Linked DNA regions of Homo sapiens. The protein of the gene in region 1 purifies or fractionates together with the protein of each later gene. This does not show direct contact. Each region holds a gene or a part of one and is shown in the gene's direction. Other genes may lie near its edges.

Region 1 (6,618 bases):
GGCCTGGTGGTGACAAAATCTCTCAACATTTGCTTGTCTGTAAAGTATTTTATTTCTCCTTCACTTATGAAGCTTAGTTTGGCTGGATATGAAATTCTAGGTTGAAAATTTTTTTCTTTAAGAATGTTGAATATTGGCCCCCACTCTCTTCTGGCTTGTAGAGTTTCTGCTGAGAGATCAGATGTTAGTCTGATGGGCTTCCCTTTGTGGGTAACCCGACCTTTCTCTCTGGCTGCCCTTAACATTTTTTCCTTCATTTCAACTTTGGTGAATCTGACAATTATGTGTCTTGGAGTTGCTCTTCTCGAGGAGTATCTTTATGGCGTTCTCTGTATTTCCTGAATCTGAATGTTGGCCTGCCTTGCTAGATTGGGGAAGTTCTCCTGGATAATATCCTGCAGAGTGTTTTCCAACTTGGTTCCATTCCCCCATCACTTTCAGGTACACCAATCAGAAGTAGATTTGGTCTTTTCACATAGTCCCATATTTCTTGGAGGCTTTGTTCGTTTCTTTTTATTCTTTTTTCTCTAAACTTCCCTTCTCGCTTCATTTCATTCATTTCATCTTCCATCGCTGATACCCTTTCTTCCAATTGATCGCATCGGCTCCTGAGTCTTCTGCATTCTTCCCGTAGTTCTCCAGCCTTGGCCCTCAGCTCCATCAGCTCCTTTAGGCACTTCTCTCTATTGGGTATTCTAGTTATACATTCATCTAAATTTTTTTCAAAGCTTTTAACTTCTTTGCCTTTGGTTTGAATTTCCTCCTGTAGCTCATAGTTCGATCGTCTGCAGCCTTCTCTCAACTCGTCAAAGTCATTCTCCGTCCAGCTTTGTTCCATTGCTGGTGAGGAACTGCGTTCCTTTGGAGGAGGAGAGGTTCTCTGCTTTTTAGAGTTTCCAGTTTTTCTGCTCTGTTTTTTCCCCATCTTTGTGGTTTTATCTACTTTTGGTCTTTGATGATGGTGATGTACAGATGCGTTTTTGGTGTGGATATCCTTTCTGTTTGTTAGTTTTCCTTCTAACGGACAGGACCCTCAGCTGCAGGTCTGTTGGAGTTTGCTAAAGGTCCACTCCAGACCCTGTTTGCCTGGGTATCAGCAGCGGCGTCTGCAGAACAGTGGTTTTTCGTGAACGGTGAATGCTGCTGTCTGATTGTTCCTCTGGAAGTTTTGTCTCAGAGGAGTACCCGGCCGTGTGAGGTGTCAGTTTGCCCCTACTTGGGGGTGCCTCCCAGTTAGGCTGCTCAGGGGTCAGGGGTCAGGGAAGCACTTGAGGAGGCTGTCTGCCCGTTCTCAGATCTCCAGCTGCGTGCTGGGAGAACCACTGCTCTCTTCAAAGCTGTCAGACAGGGACATTTAAGTCTGCAGAGGTTACTGCTGTCTTTTTGTTTGTCTGTGCCCTGCCCCCAGAGGTGGAGCCTACAGAGGCAGACAGGCAGGCCTCCTTGAGCTGTGGTGGGCTCCACCCAGTTCGAGCTTCCCGGCTGCATTGTTTACCTATGCAAGCCTGGGCAATGGGGGGTGCCCCTCCCCCAGCCTTGCTGCCGCCTTGCAGTTTGATCTCAGACTGCTGTGCTAGCAATCGGCGAGACTCCGTGGACGTAGGACCCTCTGAGCCAGGTGTAGGATATAATCTCCTGGTGTGCCGGTTTTTAACCCTGTCAGAAAAGCACAGTATTCGGGTGGGAGTGACCTGATTTTCTAGGTGCCGTCTGTCTCCCCTTTCTTTGACTAGGAAAGGGAACTCCCTGACCCCTTGCGCTTCCGGAGTGAGGCAATGCCTCGCCCTGCTTCGGCTTGCCCACGGTGCGCTGCACCCACTGACCTGTGCCCACTGTCTGGCACTCCCTAGTGAGATGAACCCGGTACCTCAGGTGGAAATGCAGAAATCACCCATCTTCTGCGTCGCTCACGCTGGGAGCTTAGACTGGAGCTGTTCCTCGATTTTTTTTCATTTATTCGTTTTCCTTTGATTTCGCCTCTCCCAAAGGTTTCAACTTGGCCTCCCTTCTGATCACAGGGGCATCAGTAAACATGGTTGGTTGATTTTGTTCTTGTCTTTCATGATTACACCATTATGTACAGTCAGTCTATTTTTCTCTGGATCAGCTGACTTCAAGGGTCTGACTTCACTCATTTTCTTCCTTATTCTCAAAGCAAGCAGTTATGCCTCTTTTTTATCTGGTGTTTGCCCCATCCTGTGGCCACTGGTCTCTGCAACCAGGAAGGGTAGCTAGACCAAGAGACTATACAAATGGGAGAAATCCTGCTTAATGTGGTCCTGCCTTTCCATCTGGCAGTCCTTCCTGGGTGCACTGTCCCTGTGCTGATGCAGTAGTCCCCTGCCCATGTAAATCCTCAGGGTCACATTACTGTGCCCTGATTTTAAAGATGGGAAAAGGTACAGTGAGTGCCTTTAGATACTCTTGAATCTGAGCAGCTCTGAACTGTGATTATGGAGATAAACTAGCCCCTGCTTTATGGTGGAGATATATAATAGGGAAAGGGTCAACCTTAGAGAAAAGGAAACCTAACACAGTACTTAAGAACTTAGGCCTTAGGATTAAGTAGACTTAGGTTTGGTTCCAAACTCTACCACTTGCTACCGTGTCACCACTTACAGCTCTGTCATTATCACTAGTTGTCCTTCCCAATGTCCCTTAACTACCTTTTCAGTCGTATCTCCTGCTACTCCCCTTCTCATTGTCTACCCTCTCCCTGCCCCTCAACACACACCTGTGTTTTAACCAGATAGAACTACCTGGAAGCTTCTTAGAAGGTAAAACCTCTAGCCCTATCTTCAGACCTATGAATTGCACTTTATGAGTATCCCAGGGTATTAAATATGCACATTGAAGTTTAAGAAGCACTGGTCTGGCTGGGCGCAGTGGCTCATGCCTATAATCCCAGCAGTTTGTGAGGCTGAGGTGGGTGGATTGCTTGAGGCCAGGAGTTCGAGACCAGCCTGGCCAACATGGCAAAACCTCGTCTCTACCAATATATAAATAAATAAGGGCCAGGCGCAGTGGCTCACGCCTGTAATCCCAGCACTTTGGGAGGCCAAGGTGGGTGGATCACCTGAGGTCAGGAGTCTGAGACCAGCTTGGCCAACCAGCCTGGTGAAACCCCATCTCCACTAAAAATACTAAGATTAGCTGGGCATGGTAGCAGGAACCTGTAATCCTAGCTACTTGGGAGGCTGAGGCACGAGAATCACTTGAACCCAGGAGGCGGAGGTTGCAGTGAGCCGAGATTGCACCACTGCACTCCAGCCTGGGCAACAGAGTGAGACTTTGTCTCAAAAAAAAAAAAAAAAAATTAGCTGGATGTGGTGGCACATGCTTGTAATCCCAGCTTCTTGGGAGGGTGAGACACAGGAATTGCTTGAACCCAGGAGGTGGAGGTTACAGTGAGCCAAGATTGTGCCATTACATAGCCTGGGCTGAGCAAGACTCTGTCTCAAAAAAAAAAAAAAAAAGCACTGGTCTAAGCTACTTCCTGGAGCTTTGATTTTTAAAAGAAACTGTCACTGTCTAGCCTGTGACTGATGAATGTATGTGATTGCCCTCTGGAAAAGTATGATATGCTTGGCAATTTGAAGTATTCTTAGAATAATACTTTAAATTATTCCCAACTAAACTGTGTCCAAAATAGGTCCTTGATAAGCTAATCCTTACTTGGCCCCCTTCATTTCCAACCCTTTGAAATTCACTCTGCTCCTTTCTCCTGATCTTCTGGAAGTTTCTTTCTGAATCTAGAGAAACTCTCCTCACCAGAGAGGAATGATGTAAGCAGGCTCAATTAAATGCCCGCTGTGTATAATGAAGCATATTGTTAGGTGCAGCATGGGACATAGAAGTTCAAAGACTATAGCTCTTGAGGATATCTTTATTTAGTTGGAAATACAAGACAGAAACATTCAAAGTAAAGTAAATTTATTCCTTATATTTAGGTAGCCCTTGTTCATCTACCTCTTCTGAAATTTTGCAATAATTCTGTGATGTTGGTAGGAAGGGAATGTGATGTTAGATAAGAAGTCAGATGGCCGGCACATCCATCTGACAGCCACACCACTGATATTAAGGGATTTGTTAATGTCATATGGCTCCTAAAGAGCTAGGATATGCATCCATATCTTCCAGCTCCAAGTACGAGTTTTTTTCTTTTTAAAAAATATTGTGTCACATTATACCCTCTAATGCCAAATTCATTTAAAATAAAGAAAAAGCCATATAAGATTGCAGAAGTAATTTTGGTGGTTGTGGTAGTTAAGAGGCAAGAAATCATTTGAAAGAGTTTGGGGAGTCTTCAGTGAAGAAGGATAATGTAGCAGTACCTTGAAAGATGAGCAGGACTTATCTGGGCAGACAAAGAGGATGAGAAATCCAAGAGAGGGGATGAGATGGAAAAAAACACAGTATGTTCAAAGAATAATGATTAGACCAGTATCCTCAGGCGATGTGAAATCTAGATTGTTTCAGTACAGTTGAATGCGTCATCTAAATTTCCCAGGTGTGGGAATCAGTGTTTAGGGTAGAGGGATCACACAATTGGTTCCTTTTTTACTTCATGCTCTTGCACAGAATCCACTGTGTAGAATTAGGGAGACATGACTTCAGATACCTGACTGGTGGAATTAAAGGTGGGAGTTTCTAATCTGGGTTGTGTTTCATGGACTACCCCGTGTACTTTCTACAGGCAGTGTGTTGCTTGTTTTGGATAGTTGGGAGCAGCTTCGCTCACCTTAAGGAACTGTGGGTAGATGGTTTGCAGGACCACATACACACACAAAATAGCCGACTAAAGAAAGCGGTGGAGATCGAGATCAGTAAGTTTGATTTGGGAACAAAACCCTGGAGACTCTATAGGTAGGTGACTGTTGGGGGTGGACAGGCGCTGAAGACTTGGATTGGTTTAGACCTAGAAGGAAGTGGCATTTGATTGGTTATTATAAGTGAAAAGGGCCCCTCCCCGGGTGAGATATGCCAGCCCCATAATTAGGACCTGAAAATCTCTGCCAGGCCTGCCTTTGTGACGTGGCCCAGTCTACCTCAGCTATGGAACAGGCCTTGACTGGTGAGGCCCAAAGCCGGTGGCCCCGCAGAGGCGGGAGTGGGGCCATGGCTGAGGCGCCTGGGCCCAGTGGCGAATCCCGAGGACACTCAGCCACTCAGCTGCCAGCGGAAAAAACTGTCGGGGGACCATCGAGGGGCTGCTCAAGCTCCGTGCTCAGAGTGTCCCAGTTGGTGCTCCAGGCCATCTCCACTCACAAAGGGCTGACTCTGGCAGCTCTCAAGAAGGAGCTCCGAAACGCCGGCTACGAAGTGCGCAGGAAGAGCGGCCGCCACGAAGCGCCCAGGGGGCAGGCCAAGGCCACGCTCCTCCGGGTCAGCGGCAGCGACGCCGCCGGCTACTTCAGGGTCTGGAAGGTTCCCAAGCCCAGGAGAAAGCCGGGACGCGCGAGGCAAGAGGAGGGCACGCGCGCTCCCTGGAGGACCCCAGCCGCGCCCCGGAGCTCCCGGAGGCGCCGCCAGCCCCTTCGCAAGGCGGCCAGGAAGGCCAGAGAAGTGTGGAGACGGAACGCGAGGGCGAAAGCCAAGGCCAATGCCAGGGCGAGGAGGACCAGGAGGGCAAGGCCGAGAGCCAAGGAGCCGCCGTGTGCCAGAGCCAAGGAGGAAGCGGGAGCGACAGCGGCAGACGAGGGGCGAGGACAGGCCGTGAAGGAAGACACCACGCCGAGGTCAGGGAAGGACAAGAGGCGAAGCTCCAAGCCCAGGGAAGAGAAGCAGGAGCCCAAGAAGCCCGCACAGCGGACCATCCAGTAGCCAACGCGGGCTAAAACCGACCGGACATCTAGCGGGCAGGGGAAGACTCCACTAAAGACTTCCACAAAGACCTCCCCTAAATCTGAAGGTCTTCCTGATCCAGTTGGGAATGCATCTTGTGGGAGCAGCTTCACTCCCACCACGGACCAATGCCTTTCCCCCATAGGCCCCAAGAAGAGCGGCTGTCACACTCATTGAAATGAAATGGACCTCTAGACCACCTTGTGTCTGTTTCCTCTTTGCCGCACCTGGAAGGGAAGGGGTGGGTGGTGGTAACGTTCAGTGAAGACAGTAAATTAGCTGAGATTCTGTTCCTGCTGCAGAACTCAGAGAAATGTCTTTTAGAAGGAGAGAAAACAGAGGAAAACCAGCAGCTTAACAAGTGTTGAAGTATTGTTAGATACTCTAGCAAATCCAAATTGAGTTCTGGGGAGGAAGGCATGTTGGGAAAAGAGTAGACAGTCTTTAAGTTGAGTGGTCCCACTGATTCAAAGTGTTCTTACCTGAAATTCCTTTTAGGACAAAGTCCTCCCAAAATTGATTATAATGAGTTTGTAGTTTTTGCCTTGAATTGATAACCTATTTTAATTTAAAAGATATTCTTATGTCAATCCTCAGTTAAATAAGTGTATGAAAGCATCCAGCATAGGGCCTGGCATAGGATAGGTACTCATCACTGAGAGTTAAATATGTGTATAATTAATTCCCGATGGAGTGGTAATGTGCTATAGCAGAAAACTGCTGGACCACTATGTAGTAAGACCAAGATTCTAGTCAAAGTTCTGCTAGTCTGAC
Region 2 (5,503 bases), on another chromosome or scaffold:
TACTGTGATCAGTTTTAGAGTAAATGCCATGTGGCAATGAGAAGAATGTATGTTCTGTTGTTTTGGGGTGCAGAGTTCTGTAGATATCTATCAGTTCTGTTTGATCCAGAGCTGAGTTCAGGTCCTGAATATCTTTGTTAATTTTCTGTCCCAATGATCTGTCAAATATTGTCAGTGGGGCATTAAAGTCTCCCACAATTATCATGTGGGAGTCTAAGTCTCTTTATAGGTCTCTAAGAACTTGCTTTATGAATCTGCGTACTCCTGAATTAGGTGCATATATATTTAGGATAGTTAACTCTTGAATTGAACCCTTTACCATTATGCAATGCCCTTCTGTCTTTTTTAATTTTGGTTGGTTTAAAGTCTGTTTTGTAAGAAATTAGGATTGTAGCCCCTGCTTTTTTCTGTTTTCCATTTGCTTGGTAAATTTTCCTCCATCCCTTTATTTCGAGCCTATGTGTGTCTTTGTTCATGAGATGGGTCCCTTGAAGACAGCATACTGATGGGTCTCAACTCTTTATCCGGTTTGCCATTCTGTGTCTTTTAATTGGGTCATTTAGCCTATTTACATTTAAGGTTAATATTGTTATGTATGAATTTGATCCTGTCATGATGCTAGCTGGTTATTTTGCAGACTTGTTTATGTGGTTGCTTCATAGCATCACTGGTCTGTGTACTTTAGTGTGTTTTTGTAGTGGCTGGTAATGGTTGTTCCTTTCCATATTTAATGCTTTCTTCAGGAGCTCTTGCAAGGCAGGCCTGGTGGTGACGAATTCCCTCAGTATTTGTTTGTCTGAAAAAGATCTTATTTCTTCTTCACTTATGAAGCTTGGTTTGGCCAGACATGAAATTCTGGGTTGGAATTTCTTTTCTTTAAGAATGTTGAAAATTGGCCCCCAATCTCTTCTGGCTGGTAGGGTTTCTACTGAGAGGTCCACTGTTAGTCTGACTGGTTTCTCTTCGTAGGTGACCTGGCCTTTCTCTCTGGCTGTCCTTAACATTTTTTCTTTTATTTTGACCTTGGAGAATCTGAAGATTATGTGTCTTGAAGTTGCTTTTCTCATGGAGTACCTTACTGGGGTTCTCCGGATTTCCTGAATTTGAGTTTTGGCCTGTCTTGCTAGGTTGGGGAAGTTCTCCTGGATGATAATCTTGAAGTATGTTTTCCAACTTGGTTCTGTTTTCCTTGTCTTTTTCAGGTACCCCAATTAGTCATAGGTTTTTACATAGTCCCATATTTCTTGGAGGTTTTGTTCATTCCTTTTCATTCTGTGTGTGTGTGTGTGTGTTTGTGTGTGTGTGTGTATTATTGTCTGCCTGTCTTATTTGAGAAAGATACTTGGTCTATTCTGCTATTAATACTTGTGATTGCATTATGTATTTCTCATGTTGTATTTTTCAGCTCCATCAGGTCAGTAATGCTCCTCTCTAAACTGGCTATTCTGGCTGTTGGCTCCTGTATTGTTTTATCATGATTCTTAACTTATTTGCATTGGGTTACAGCATGCTCCTTTAGCTCAGTGAAGTTCATTATTACTCACCTTCTGAAGCCTACTTCTGTCAGTTCAGCCATCTCAACTTCAGCCCAGTTCTGTGCCCTTGCTGGAGAGGTGTTGCTGTCATTTGGAGGAGAAGCAGCACTCTGGCTTTTAGAGTTTTCCAGGTTTTTGCATTGATTCTTTCTCATCTTTGTGGGCTTATCTGTCTTAGATTTTTGAGGTGGCTTACCTTTCAGTGGGGTTTTGTGGGGTCTTTTTTGTTGATGTTGTTGTTGTTACTTTGTTTGTTTGTTGTTTTTCTTTTAACAGTCAGACCACTTTTCCGTAGGACTGTTGCAGTTTGCTGGGGGATTGCTCCAGACCCTAGTTGTTTCAGTTTTTACCTTACCTGGAGGTATCACCAGTTAAGGCTGCAAAACAGCAATGATGGTAGCCTGTTCCTTCCTTTGGGAGCTCTGTCCTAGAGGGGTACTGACCTGTTGCCAGCCCAGACACTCCTGTAGGAGTTGTCTAGAGACCCCTGTTGGGAGGTCTCACCCAGTCAGGAGAGACAGGATCAGGGACCTGCTTAAAGCAGTCTGGCTGCTTTTTGGTAGAGTAGGTGTGCTGCACTGTGGGGATCCCATCCCCATCCGGACTGCTTCAACTGTCCAGAGCCAACAGTCTGGAAAGGCTGTGTCGACTGAACTGCTTAGATGTTGGCCACCCCTCCCGCCAGGGGCTCCATCCCTGGGAGGGATCAGAGATCTGTCTGTATAACCCTGGCTGGAGTTCCTGAAATTCCTGGAGTTGCTGGTGCTCACTGGCACCAACTGGTGAGGAGGGATGGATCGGGGTCCCACTTAAAGAAAAAGTCTGGCCACAATCTGGCACAGCAGCTATGCTGCATTATGGTAGACTCCTCCTTGTCTAGACTGCCTGGACTCCCTGGAGCTGGCAGGCTGGAATGGCTGTGTCAAATGAACTGCAGAAACAGGGGCCGTCTCTCCCCAGGGCTCTATCCCAGGGAGAGATCAGAGTCCTGTTCATATAACCCTGGCTAGAGTTGTTGAAATTCCTGCAGGGAGGCACCACCCAGTGAGGAGGGATGGATTAGGGTCCCACTTAAAGAAGCAGTGTGGCTGTGATCTGGCACAGCAGCTGTGTTGCATTGTGGGCGACTCCTCCTTGTCCAGTGGACTCCTTGGAGCTGGCAGACTAGAATGGCTGAGTCGACCTAACCACAGAAATGGCAGCTGCCCCTCCCCCCAGGAACTTGTCCATCTCAGGCAGTCTCCAGCCTGTTGCACTGGTTGGCTGGATTTCCAATCCAGTGAGGCTTAACTTGTGAGATGCCATGGAAGTGGGGCCCGCAGAACAACACCGCTTGGCTCCCTGGATTCAGCTCCCTTCCTTGGAGAATTTATGGATGGATCTCCTGCCTTACCGGGATTCCTGGGGCTAGAGTCTATTAAACTCCTGGGTCTCTGTGTGAGCCTGAGCAACTGCTCTGCCAAGACTCTGCACAGCTCTGTGTATTGGACCCAAGGCCCTGGTGGTGTGGGCTCACGAGGGTATCTCCTGATCCACAGGCTGCAAAGATCCGTGAGAGAAACGTGGTTTCCCAGGTGGGGGTCACACAATCACTCACTGCTTCCCGTGGCTGGGAGTGGGGGTTTCTTTGGCTCCATGCCACTCCCAGGTGGGCAGTCACTCCATCCTGATTTCCTTAGTTCTTTCTCCATGGGTCGAGTTGTCCGCCTAGTCAGTCCCAATGTGAAAACCTGGATATTTCAGTTGAAGGTGCTGAATTCACTTGCCATTTTCATTCCTCTGGGAGAACTGCAGACCACAGCTGCTTCTAATCAGTCATCTTTGCCAAAATATCTGTTTAGTTTGTTACCAACTTCCTTCAGAAAATTCCATATGGAAACCCAACACCTACAAATACACTTTTGAAAAGATAACAGGACAAATTGTTTGCATTTTATAATTTCCTATGTTTAATTTTGTCTATTGTTATAATTTAATACTTCTGAAAAATTTTTTTAATTGACTAATGAAAGCAGCTCTCAGGTGTGGTTAATCTTATAATTGCATAAATAAGGAAAACCAGTTATGTTTGTAAATAAATATTAAAGGACTGATGTTTATACACTTATTTTGTATATGGATCATAATGAAAATTAAATTTAGCATATGATAATATAAATAGGAAAAATCACTTACTCAAAATTTGCATTTGTACTATAAATCCATGTCTTCGTATGATTTTTAAACTCTTAAAGATTATAGTAATCTTTTCAATAAGGACTTTATAAAAGTTTAAAAATGGAACAGAGAAATTGAATTCAAATTATTAAGTTACTAAATACATTCTTATATAGGCACAAGGTGGCTTATATTTATACTTTCAAAAAGACTTTGGAGTTGTCACTTAACTGTTCTACTTTATAAAGATTTGATGTTAATGTTTTTTTTTCACCAAAAATTTAGATATAGTGTTTGTAGCTATTTCTTGGTGAACAGTTATTTTTATTTTAAATTGGAAAAATAATCCTCATCAGTCAGGAGAAAACAAAATAATGATTCATGAAGAAATATGTTGATTTTTTCTTTCAGACCTGAAGATTATCGGCTATAAGAGAATAAGAATTGCAGAAAATAACAGTGAAGTGATTGAAACTTTCTTCTGATGAGTTTCTCTAACCTACAGGATGGAGTAAAACAACTGCTACAGTTCAGCACCTGTTTTATGTGCCGAATCACTGTGGGGAAAGGTCAGGAAGGTATAGTCCTTCAATAGGAAATTGTAATTAAAATATAATTTTATAGAACCATTTTTATGTAATCTGATTTGAATGTTATAGTTGATAATAATAAAATCACTTACTTGGTTGACTATTTAGTGTTGCATTTAATGATAAAAAACAGACCCTGTGTATAGAATTGCAGTTACACATTCCAAAAATGCCTCTCCATGCAGATTTTCTCAAGTTTGCAGGTCACTATTCTTGTCCCTTGTGAACAAGCTCTACCTTCACTTTTCATTTCAGTGGCTTTTTTTATCTAACTTGTCATCCATCTAAATTCATATTTGCAGCTTAGTAGGGTAAAGTTTGCCCTGAAATATTTATAAACTGCTATCTTTTTCTGTGTCCCATATAGCCTCTTGGCCCCACAATGACACCAGAATACATAATGCCTGTCTGCTCGTTAGAAATCCCTCTTCCCTGCCAGTGATTCTGTTTGTAGACTCTCCACACTGTTTTCCCATATCTGTCCTGTTGGCTTCCATTCATCTCTGTACTGGCACTTAGATTGGGGTGCTGGGATGACTATTGCTTGTAAAATATGCTCTCTAGAAATTAAGATACTGAGCCACTGCATTTGAGCATTTTCATGGTGGTATTTTTTCATCTCTTGCCATAGCCAATCAAGGAATGAATTTCAGACCAACTTTCCCATTCATTCAGCAAACATATATTCAGTACTGCTATATACCAGGCACAGTGCTAGGTCCTGGGAAAACAGAAATCATACAAGTTGCCCCCAACACTTCCGTGCCCCATCAAAGAGTCTATTGTAGGATGGGAAGGAAGTATAGATAGATCTGTAAACAAGTAAAACTGGTTGTCAAATGTGCTAATACAACTGTGTGAATTATGATGTAAACATGTTTATTTAATAACTGCATTAAATATGACATAAGCACCTACTATGTGCCAGGCACAACCACTTTATATGAATTATTTAATTAATACATACTGTAATGGAGGTACTGTTATCCTCCCAATTTAAAGGGGACACAGTGAAGCAGCAATAAATTAAGTAATTTGGCTAAGGTAAAATCAGGATTTGCATCCAGGCAGTTGGACTTGAAAGCCCATGGACTTACCCACTGCTAGATGAGAAAAGGTGAATATGTTTCTGTATTACAAATTCTTTAACAAAGCACGTATAACCCGGCACAGGTTAACAACTACCATTCAAAAGGAAGTCTCAGTTACATTTTAAGGTGT

The links.
Region 2: the proteins of H1-7 (region 1) and MRPL13 purify together in Homo sapiens (co-immunoprecipitation; 2 studies listed by BioGRID and IntAct, with this or other methods). This does not show direct contact.

What each region holds. Positions count from the first base shown.
Region 1 is NC_000012.12:48,324,237-48,330,854, forward strand, and holds H1-7 (testis-specific H1 histone), read left to right. Parts: upstream 1-4,743; 5' UTR 4,744-5,055; coding exon 5,056-5,823; 3' UTR 5,824-6,043; downstream 6,044-6,618. UniProt on the Homo sapiens protein: Essential for normal spermatogenesis and male fertility. Required for proper cell restructuring and DNA condensation during the elongation phase of spermiogenesis.
Region 2 is NC_000008.11:120,394,726-120,400,228, reverse strand, and holds the end of MRPL13 (large ribosomal subunit protein uL13m), read left to right. Parts: intron 1-4,103; coding exon 4,104-4,125; 3' UTR 4,126-4,792; downstream 4,793-5,503.